2 separate regions of the Homo sapiens genome follow, and region 2 is linked to region 1. The links come from fine-mapping of genetic effects on gene expression. A gene starts in region 1. The other region holds a variant in brackets. All regions are shown on one strand. Distances are between the middles of the regions.

Region 1 (5,000 bases):
CTTACCTCTAGACTGTCACTACCATCTGCCTCCCGGTCTATGATGTCAAAAATGTCCTCATGGATCTTTTCTCCCTGTACAGACATAGGGGAGGGTCAGAGTGGGACAGAACCATGGGAGGTCTCTGACCTCAGAAAAGCCACCCTCAATTCTCCTTATAACACCCAGAAGTCCTTTTATGGAGCATAGCTACCTGCTTTTATCTACATTGAGAGGCAGTACGGTGCAGTGGTTACAAGAAAGCACTCTACACCCAGACTACCTGGGTTCATACATTAGCTCTATTTTTTTTTGCGATGGAGTCTCTCTCTTTCTCCCAGGCTGGAGTGCAGTGGCGCGATCTTGGCTCATGGCAACCTCCGTCTCCTGGGTTCAAGCGATTCTCCTGCCTCAGCCTCCCCAGTAGCTGGGATTATAGGCGCATGCCACCATGCCCAGCTATTTTTTGTATTTTTAGTAGAATCAGAGTTTCACCATGTTGGCTAGGCTGGTCTTGAACTCCTGACCTCAGGTGATCTGCCTGCCTTGGCCTCCCAAAGTGCTAGGATTACAGGCGTGAGCCACCACGCCTGGCCCATTAACTCTACTTCTATGTAGCTCTGGGCAGCTTATTTAATTGCTCTATGCCTCAGTTTCCTCATCTGTACAATGAAGGTAATAATACAGGTCCATATACCCTTATCTAACAGTGTTGGGGCCAGTTATGTTTTGGAATTCAAAATATTTCAGATTTTAGAAAGGTATTATGGTATATATACTATATATTAAATAAAATTCCAGTGGGAATTTTTATTTAATCAGAAGCACGTTAATCAAATATATTAGTATTTCTGTAATAAAAGGCATCACTAATGACAGTAAGTTGGATAGAAACTATAGGGCCGGGCATGGCGGTTCACGCCTGCAATCCCAGCACTTTGGGAGGCCGAGGCAGGTGGATCACGAGGTCAGGAGATCAAGACCACCCTGGCTAACACAGTAAAACCCCGTCTCTACTAAAAATACAAAAATTAGCCAGGCGTGATGGCAAGCACCTGTAATCCCAGCTACTCGGGAGGCTGAGGCAGGAGAATCGCTTGAACCCGGGCAGCAGAGGTTGCAGTGAGCTGAGAGCGTGCCACTGCACTCCAGCCTGGGCGACAGAGTGAGACTCCGTCTCAAAAAAAATAAATAAATAAAAATTAAAAAAAAGAAACTATAAAACAGCCTGTCTTCATTGAAATTTGTTTTTGCTGATAAACTAGTTATGAAATGTCCTTTGGTTTCATGGCTTTCTGGATCCTGGAAAGGCAGATAAGGGACTGTGGACCTGTAGTACTTACTTCTAGGGTTGTTGGGAGATTTAGAAAAATTAATATATGTAAAGCACTTAGAATGACCTGGCACACTGCATTAGCTAGTGTAGGCGCTTGACAATATTACATAGTCCACTCCCTGCAGCCAGGTCTCTCCCTCCAGCATTCATACATCCCTGATCCGGTTTTCCCTCTCTTCGGGACGTCATAGAGCCTGTCCCTACCCAGCGAGTTGTGGGCCCTGCCAGGGAATAGGAAACGACCTGGGAGAATCCGCTGGCCCAGTTGTTGCCAGCTCCTCCTCCATGTTCCGACAGGTAGATGTTCTCTGGGTTGTAGAGCTTGGCATAGGGGGAGTTGAGGATGGAGTGGATCACCCGGGGTTCCAAGTCCAGCAGCACGGCCCGGGGGATGTAGTGCTCATCGTCTGCCTGTCAAGGGGAGTCCAGGAGGGGGCCCAATCAGCTAGGGCGGCCCAAGTCCGAAGTCCTCCCAACTCTGGCTCCCTCCGGCCCTCCCTCCTCAAGCCAGCCGCCTGGCCCTACTGCCCAGCGGGGTTCCCAGTACCAGGCCACTCCCTTCCCTTCCGCCCCCTTGGGCAACTGCCGCCCCCGGCCAAGTCGCTGGGGGCACCTGGTAGAAAAAGACGTCCTTGCGGTCAGTGCCCTCGGTGGCGAACTCCTCCACGATGCCCTCGGGGCTGATACCATGCTCGGCGCACAGCTGTTTCCAGAACTCGAACCCAACTGGGGGGAAGGGGCGGGCAGGGGAGAAAGAAGATATCTAGGTCCGGGCAGGTTCCAATCAGGAGCCGGGGGACTGGGCGCCTGCGTCCAGGGATAAGAAGTCAAGCCGCAGGACTCTCCCGTGTCTGAGGAAAGGACTGTACGCCAGGGACTGGGCAGGGGAGGGCCCCTCGGGGTTGGGCAAGTGGACACTGGGTCAGGGATGTCTCGCCTTTCAGAGAACTACGATTCTGGCAAGGACAGATGGAGTCCAGGATCCCACAGCGAGATCCCATTGACCCTAAGGAACCTGGCTAGCTGAGGGGCCGGAGTTTCGCTCACTCTGATTGCCGCACTGGCCCAACTGTAGGGTGATGATTTCCCTCGGCATCGCTCCTCAGGCACCGGCGTTGCAGCCGCTCCCGCCCGCAACGGCGCCGCACGCCAGCCCGCTCGCCGCAAGACGCAGGCGCCAAACAACCAGCTCCACCCACGAACTTCCTCCGCTCCAATGAGAATCGAGTTCTGGCAATGAATGGCACGTCTTTAAGCACTGGCCTTCGTTCATGCAGATTGCGCGTGCGCGGCTCCGGATGCGGCTCGGCGCCTCCGGATCCGGCTCCGCGCCTCAGTGAGGGCGGGGTACGGCGTCCTCCCTCCCCTCTGGGTGGGCGCCTGCTTGGGCCTGCGCGCAAGCGCGCTGTGGTGCGAAGCCACCTCCCCCGCCGAATCGCGCATCTGCGCAGTTGCTGTTATTGTGACTTGTCGGGCCACGGCCCCGGATGTTGTGGCTGCCGCGGGGAGATGGCTGAGGCCGAAGGGGTTCCCACGACCCCAGGCCCGGCTTCGGGGTCGACTTTCAGGGGCCGCCGAGATGTGTCAGGCTCCTGGGAGCGGGACCAGCAGGTTGAGGCGGCGCAGCGGGCCCTGGTGGAGGTGCTGGGGCCTTACGAGCCTCTGCTGAGTCGGGTGCAGGCAGCCCTGGTGTGGGAGCGGCCAGCTAGGAGCGCTCTGTGGTGCCTGGGGCTGAACGCGGCTTTCTGGTGAGAGAACTGGACCCTCGGAAACCCTCCGAGTCCCGAATTCGTTGGTTCCTCTAGGGCTCTACTTCTCGCCTGCCCTGTTTTCTTCGCTGCACTGGCTCCTTCCTGTACTTGCCTAATTTTGCCTCACCTCCTTCCACTCCATCCCGCCTGCAGGCTTCGGCACCCTAGTTCTTCCCAGGGCCGTCCACCCATCTTCTCTGCCTTACCTGTGCCCGCACCCCCGCCCCGCACATCTGGCGGGAGCTTCTGGTAACATCTTGAGCCGCTCAAGAGTGAGCGAGGGCTCCTCTTTTGAGCCCGACAAAGCTGCGTCCCTTTAAAGCCATCACTTCCTTTCTCTTGTCTGCTCAAGTGCAAGTTCTAGATTGTTTCCAGAGGTTTTAGTAGTTTATTGTTGGAGTAGAGGCGTGAAGTCTTGCAAAGGTATCCATAGGTGTGATTATAAAACAAGCTTGAGCGATTCGCATGAATTAGCATGTTATATATCTAGGAAGGAAGTTTATGAAGTCTAAGCGTCAGTGTGAGCCCCCAAAGCTGAAAATTGAAAGAAAATTACAAGCTTTTAAAGAACAGTTAGGAAATGATGACGGAGATTACACGCGTGTCAAAGCCACCTGTGATTGTAACTCCTCCCTGTTCCAAGGAATTAGAGAGGCATCCTTAGCCATGGTTTATAGGCAAGGAAATTGATGTCTAATACTGTGTGTGAGTTTTCCTGAGCTGGAAAAGTAGCACTGTAAATATGCTTTATTTGTGTGTGTCATGCTCTGTGAAAATGGAACTGCTGCTTCTCTCAGTTGTCATCACCTGAAGTGGACCTAGGACTTCATAGGATCTACCAACCATAATTTTGGATTTATTTGTAATGGAGGAGGTTCCAAGGGAACTGACTTATAGGGGGCTTTCTGCTGCTGAATGGATTAAGACTATTCTGGATAAGCCTGAAACAACAAAATATGTGTGTTTTTTAATTGTGTTTTTGCTAAAAATAGCTTTCCCCTTAAAATTTGTTTTAAAATCAAAACATTTATTATCCTTTATCTGAAAGATTTTCAGTGAGCTGAAGCAGAACAAATAATTCCAAGTTCATTGACCCGAAAACAGTGTTCAGCTATTAAGCTAATCCTCTCCCAGTTTGAAAGAGACCCAGTTAAAGGTGTCACAGTAGTCTCTGGCATTTGTGGCTTCCAGAGCCTTTAGCAAACTCGATGGTAAACTTTTCCTACCACGTTCTTCATTTATTTTTGGTAGTGCTTTTTCCCTTTTTTTTTTTTTTAAGACAGAGTTTCACTCTTATTGCCCAGGCTGGAGTGCAATGGCGTGATCTCGGCTCACTGCAACCTCCGCCTCCCAGATTCAAGCATTTCTCCTGCCTCAGCCCCCCAAGTAGCTGGGATTACAGGCATGAACCACCACAACCGGCTAATTTTGTATTTTTTTAGTAGAGATGGGGTTTCTCCATGTTGGTCAGGCTGGTCTCGAACTCCCGAGGTCAGGTGATCTGCCTGCCTCGGCCTCCCAAAGTGCTGGGATTACAGGCGTGAGCCACTGCGCCTGGCCTTTTTTTTTTTTTTTTTTTTTTTGAGACAAGGTCTTGCTCTATCACCCAGGCTGGAGTGCAGTGGTATGATCTCGGCTCATTGCAACTTCCACTTCCTGGGCTCAAGCAATCTTCCCACCTCAGCCTCCACAATAGCTGGGACCAGAGGTGCACATCATCATGCTTGGCTAATTTTTTAAATTTTTTGTGGAGACAGGGTCTCACTATATTGCCCAGGCTGGTCTCGAACTCCTAGGCTCTGGTGATCCTCCTGCCTTGGGCTCCCAGAGTGCTGGGATTATAGGCATGAGCCACCGTGCCCAGCCAAGTGCTTCTTCCTTGACCCCTAGGTACTGATTCCCATTGCTCTCTGTAGAAATCTTCACTATAGCAC
Region 2 (5,512 bases), 64 kb after region 1:
GGGATCGTCGGCGAACACGTCCCGGTGCATGGCGGCGGCGTAGTCGAAGCCAAAGGGGTCGTCCAGGCGCATCAGCAGCTGGTGCAGGAAGCGCCTGGTTGTGAAGTAGCGCAGGGTCGGCTTCGGGGCGCGCATAGCGGTGAGGAAGACCTGCGGCGGCGGGAGAGGAGCTCTGGCCCGGGCTGCGCGCAGGACGACGCACCGCCCCCGCTCCCGGAGTCCCGCCCCCCGCTCACCTTCACCACCTCCTCAGGGTGCTGCGCCTCCTCGCGGTAGATCTCCTTGCTGTGGTGGAGGTATTAGTGCAAGAGGCGGAAGGTCCGGGTGTTCGTGCGGTCCATCACCTGGTCGGGACCGCCCAACACCTTCTGCATGAAGGCGGTGTCCACAGGGCCGCACTCGATCAGGCTCACGCTGCTGGCCCGAGAGCCGCAAGTGGGCAGGGACGGAGGCGACCCAGGCGCCAAGTCCCATCTCCTGCCCCAGCACCGGCCCCGACCCCGGCCCTGGCCACGACCCAGAACAGCACCGCTGCGTCCCGAAGGTGGAAAGAGCGCTGGGGATAACCAGAACATTTGAATAGCGGGTTATTGCTCGACAGCCCTCCCAAACCCATCTGAGGCTGCCAGGTAGCCCTGGTGTCAGAATTCGAACCTGGCGGGATCCCCGGCCGCTGCATGACCTTGGGCCAGTCACCTAACCTCTCTTGGCTGGAGCTTCCCCATAACAATACCAACACTTCAGCAGCCAGGTCAGCAAGTGGCACAATGCGTGCCAATGCTCCAGCCTAAGTGCCTGGCACGCAGCAAATGTAAGCCGGGCAGAGACCAGAGCGGCTTCCGCAGGACAGGGTGCTCGGCATCTCTAGGTCAGAGTTAAGAGGGTTGAGGAGACGGGGGTGTTGACTCACTGGACCCCAAAGGGCAGCAGCAGAACCGCCAGACTCTCGCATAAGCCTTCGAGCGCGAACTTGCTGGCGCAATAAACGTCATTGAAAGGCAGCCCTTGGGTGGGAAGATGAGGTTCCTGAGGCGCAGCGGCCAGGGGGTCATCCCCCGGCAGGCAGTGCCCCTCCAAGCTGATTGCACCCCACCCCCTAAGGAGCCTGCCTTCAAGGCTCAGCTCTGCACACAAAGAATCTGGAGCTCCGGGCCCGGTCCCTGCCACTCACCCATCAATCCTCCCATGCTCCCAGTCACCAACACGCGTCCCGAACCCGGCCGCTTCATGTCTGGCAGGAAGTCCTGCAGCACCCGCACAGTACCTACTACATTCACATCCAGTACAGAGGCCACAGCGTCCTCCCCCAGCGGCCCCAGCAGGCCCAGGCCTGTGTCACACACTGCGGGGACAGAGGCCCAACCAGCCCGCCTCAGCATCACCCTCAGCACGGCCTGTCCCCTCATGCTCCAGGGGCCTGGGGACATGTTGGTTTCAACGCAGGGCGGAGAAGGCTCCTAGGAGCCCATATGCTTCCAGGAGGCTCACCCAGCACATCCACACGGCCCTCGGTCACGCGTTCCCGGGCAGCGGCCAGGGAGCTTGAGTTCCTTACATCCAGCTGCAACCTCTCCAGGGATCCCTGAGGGCATGCCAGGGCCCGGGCCGCCTCCCACAGCCGGCCCTGTGTTTTCAGGTCCCTCAACGTGGCATACACTGGAGGTTTTGGGAGAGGAGGAAGATCTGACTTCTCTTCTGGCCTCCAAGGGCTTTTCCCTTCTCTCCCTCCCTGTCCCTACCTATCTATACCTTTGAAGCTCTGGGATGGGTCCAAAGCCAGATGTATTGCCAAGTGCAGGCCAATACCTGAGGAACAGCCGGTGATGAGCACCACGGTGCAGGCCATGGTGAGACTGTGGGGAGAGGCTGGGGCTCTGGGCTGGATATCACCTGCTTCGCCCCGCCCCGCCTGCGGGCCCCCACCCCTTGTTGTGTCTCCCACGCAATCTCAAGGATAAGCCCTCCTGCGGGTCCCTGGCCCGCTCTCCCCACCCTGTTCTGAGCCAAAACAGACATGAGCCCACTGCTTGGAACAACAAACTGTCCTCGTTTCTGGTCAGAGGGAGGGGAGGCTTTACAAGCAGATGTGGGTTCCCACGTGGGCACAGAGTGGCCCCCTGGGCAGATTCCCCTGGGTATGCCTCTGTGCCACAGGAGCGATTATAGTGACCGCAGTTTGCTGCAGAGGCTGTGAAAGTAAAGGTGTTGGGAGGTGGGAGATGATTGTATATGTGTTGGTTTCGTCCAGGGTTCCTAGCTCATAACTCACATGACCATGGTTACAGTCTTTCGTTGTCATGTTGGGGCGCCTCAGGCCTCAAAAAACAGCCTTTCCTCTCTTTGACCTTCTCCTGTCCTCTTTTCAGCTGCCCAAGGCAGGATTCTAATCTGATTGTGGGTTGTAGGATCCTCATTCCAGAGTGGGTCCTTGCCCCATACCCTGGAGAAAGGAATGCTGCACAAAGGCCCAAAGAATCTGGACTGGCCTTGCTGGGCTTAGATCAGACCCTTTTTGCCCAATCACATTATCACAGTTGTCCATGCTTCAGTCATGGACAGCCAATGGAGTTCTCCATAAAAGGCCCAAAGGACAGGGTTCGGGAAGCTTCTGAGAGCTGAACGTGTGGAGGCTGACAGAAGGTGAAGAACTCATCCATGTGCCTGGAGGGTGATGTAACCCCAACTCTATGGAGATAGAAGCTCCTGCTCTGGGCCCTTCCAGACCGCCCTGTCTGTATCTCTTCATATGGCTGTTTATTTCTATCCTTTAAAATATCCTTTGAGGTTGGGCACGGTGGCTGATGCCTGTAATCCCAGCACTTTGGGAGGCCAAG[G/A]CAAGGGGATTGCTGGAGCTCAGGAGTTCAAGACCAGCCAGGGCAACAGAATGAGACCCCGTCTTTGCAAAAACTACAAAAAAATTAGCTGGGTGTGGTGGTGTATGCTTAGAGTCCCAGCCACTTGCGGGGTGGGGCGCTGAGGCGTGGGGTTTGGGGGGATGGAGGCTGTAGTGAGCCGAGATCATGCCACTGCACTCCAGCCTGGGTGACGGAGCCAGATCCTGCCACTGCAGTCATTCTGGATGACAGAGTGAGACCCTGTCTCAAAAAAGAAAGAAAAAAATTTTTTTCCTCTGTAATAAAGCAATAAACATAATAAGGGTTTCCCTGTGTTTCGTGGGTCACTGTCGCAAATGAGTTGACTCCAAAGAGGGGAAGGGGGTCATGGGAACTCCAACTTGAAGCCAGTTAGTCAGAAGTTCCAGGGATCAGGACTTGTAACCGTTGGGAAGGAGGGGGTGGTCTCATGGATCTGCACCCTAACCCTGTGGGATCTGATGCTGTCTCTGGTTGATTACATTGGAACTGAATTGGAGGACACCCAGCTGATGTCTGCTGCTTGGTGTGTGTGGGGAAAATCCTCCAAATATTTGGTCACAGAAGTCTTCTGTGTTGGTGACTGTTGCTGTGGCATGCCAGCAAAGGACAAACATGGTTTGAAAAGAGGTTTTCCTGCAACAGAAGGGCATTCTACGTTCAAAGGTCAGGGTAACATTAGTGTTAAAAAGAGAGACGTGGCCGGGCACGGTGGCTCACTCCTGTAATCCCAGCACTTTGGAAGGCCGAGGCAGGTGGATCACTTGAGTTCAGGAGTTAAAGACCAGCCTGGCCAACATGGTGAAACCTTATCTCTATGAAAAATACAAAAATTAGCCGGGCGTGATGGCACAGGCCCGTAGTCCTAACTCCCTGGTAGACTGAGGCAGGAGAATTGCTTGAACCCGGGAGGCAGAGGTTGCAGTAAACCAATATGGTGCCACTAAACTCCAACCTGGGCGACAGAGCAAGACTCCATCTTGGAAAAAAAAAAATTAGCCTGGCGTGGTGGTGCATGCCTATAGTCCCAGCTACCGGGGAGGCTGAGGCACAAGAATTGCTTGAACCCAGGAGGCGGAGGTTGCAGTGAGCCGAGACTGTGCCATTGTACTCAAGCCTGGGCAACAGACCAAGGCTCCGTCACAAACAAACAAACAAACAAAAACAGGGACGTGAGGCAAGGGATGGGAGAACAGGTCCCACCCCAGGGCCATGCTATAGCCCTGAGTCCTCCCAAGCGTGGCAGCAGTGACCTTCTCATTTTGACAGACCCAGGGGACTCATCAGTTTAAGTGGAAAGAAAACAGTACTTTAATCCCACACTTTGGGTGGTGGTGGAGGGCAGGTCATTTCCCTCCAATCCCCCCAGGTCAGACCCCACCAGCAGGCCGTGGGGCCTCCTCCCAGGCCTGGGTTATCCTGTGATGTCTGTCCAGCTCTGGGCCCTGGAATCTGCCCTGGAATTAGCGGAAAACAAGGCCCAGTGGTGGCGAATCTATCACCAAGAGCCGGCCACCCAGCGGGGGTAATATTTGAGGAAGATCTTCTTGGCCAGGTCCACAGTGTCTCCTCGCGGCTGGCTGGGGTACCTCTGCTTGCTGAGAACGAAGGCCTGCTCCAGTTGGAAGACATTTTTGTCAAACTGGTGCTGTTGGAAAGGGATGCCCTGGGCCACACTGTCAACCAGCGCCTCCAGGAAAAGCCGCCAGCGAGGGGTGTAGTAGTTGGCCACCAACCCCGCCAGCTGCTTGTTGGCATAGTCCAGGATGTTGCCTTCTGGCCCCCACAAGGTCAGCTGGTAGCGGCTGTTCTGCTCGTAGAAATCGGCCTCGGCCTCACTGACTGCCGCTGCTCGGGCCTGCTCTAGCCAGCTGCCCAGCAAGAAGCGGCTGTCACTAGCCAGCACCTCGTCCAGTGCCGGCAGCAGCTCATAGGCCAGGACGCCTCCAGCCCTCAACAGGGAGGCCAGCTCCTTGCTCAGGTAGGCGCTTCTTGCCTCCTCATAGTACAAGCTGACCAGCTCCTGCACTGCCTGCCGAGTGAGGTCCAGCAGGTCGTAGCGGAAGGCGGGGCTGGTGGCCAGGGAGGGAGCAGATGTGAGCAGCAGCCGCCAGGCCTCAAACACATCAGATCGGTTGTACCAGATGCTGGTATTCATCTGTAGGGACGGCCGCCTGACCAGCGGGCTACGATTGTGGCCCCTGCAGGCCTCCCCGGAGCAGTTGTACACACTCCGGAGCAGTAGCCTCCACGCTGCCCCTGCGTCCGGGTGGGAGACCCCATACCGCCGGGCGGCAAAGCTGGTCACCCAGGCTGCCAAATCTGGCACTGGGTCCTTTCGCCAGCCCAGCTCAGCCATGAGGGAATAGACCACTTCGTTCTGGCTGATGCCCTCGGGGGCCATGCCCGTGCCTACCATGGTGGAGTTGGGGAAGAGGCGGGCAGCTTCTGGGCCTCCGTTCACAGCCTCTAGGGCTCCAAAAAGACCATGGTTTCCCCCAAAGTTGTGCAGCATGCACCAGATGAAGGGCTGGCCCTGGAAGGAGGCAGTGCGGGTATACACAGGCTGGCTCTCAGCAAACAGGTCCAGAACCAGGAGGCGGCCACGGGGCACAGCTCCCAGCACAGCCCTGATCTGG

Evidence for each region. PIP is the estimated chance that this variant, and not a neighbour inherited with it, causes the effect.
Region 2: its variant is the best candidate, but not a certain one, in a credible set for the expression of RETREG3 in whole blood (INTERVAL, PIP 0.85).

The regions. Positions count from the first base shown.
Region 1 is chr17:42,607,149-42,612,148 of GRCh38, reverse strand. RETREG3 (reticulophagy regulator family member 3) reads left to right here and starts at 2,775. Exons shown (of 9, transcript NM_178126.4): 1 at 2,775-3,063. The coding sequence starts at 2,825. TUBG1 (tubulin gamma 1) reads right to left here and starts at 2,466. Exons shown (of 11, transcript NM_001070.5): 1 at 2,363-2,466; 2 at 1,929-2,041; 3 at 1,559-1,726; 4 at 6-74. The coding sequence starts at 2,411. RefSeq lists an enhancer at 2,784-2,893.
Region 2 is chr17:42,543,098-42,548,609 of GRCh38, reverse strand. NAGLU (N-acetyl-alpha-glucosaminidase) reads right to left here. Exons shown (of 6, transcript NM_000263.4): 6 at 4,161-5,512. The coding sequence ends at 4,372. It also overlaps the pseudogene HSD17B1P1. Among named protein-coding and RNA genes, the nearest start is that of HSD17B1, 7.1 kb to the left of the region's middle. RefSeq lists a silencer at 95-344. The variant G/A (reference allele first, on the strand shown) is at 2,835.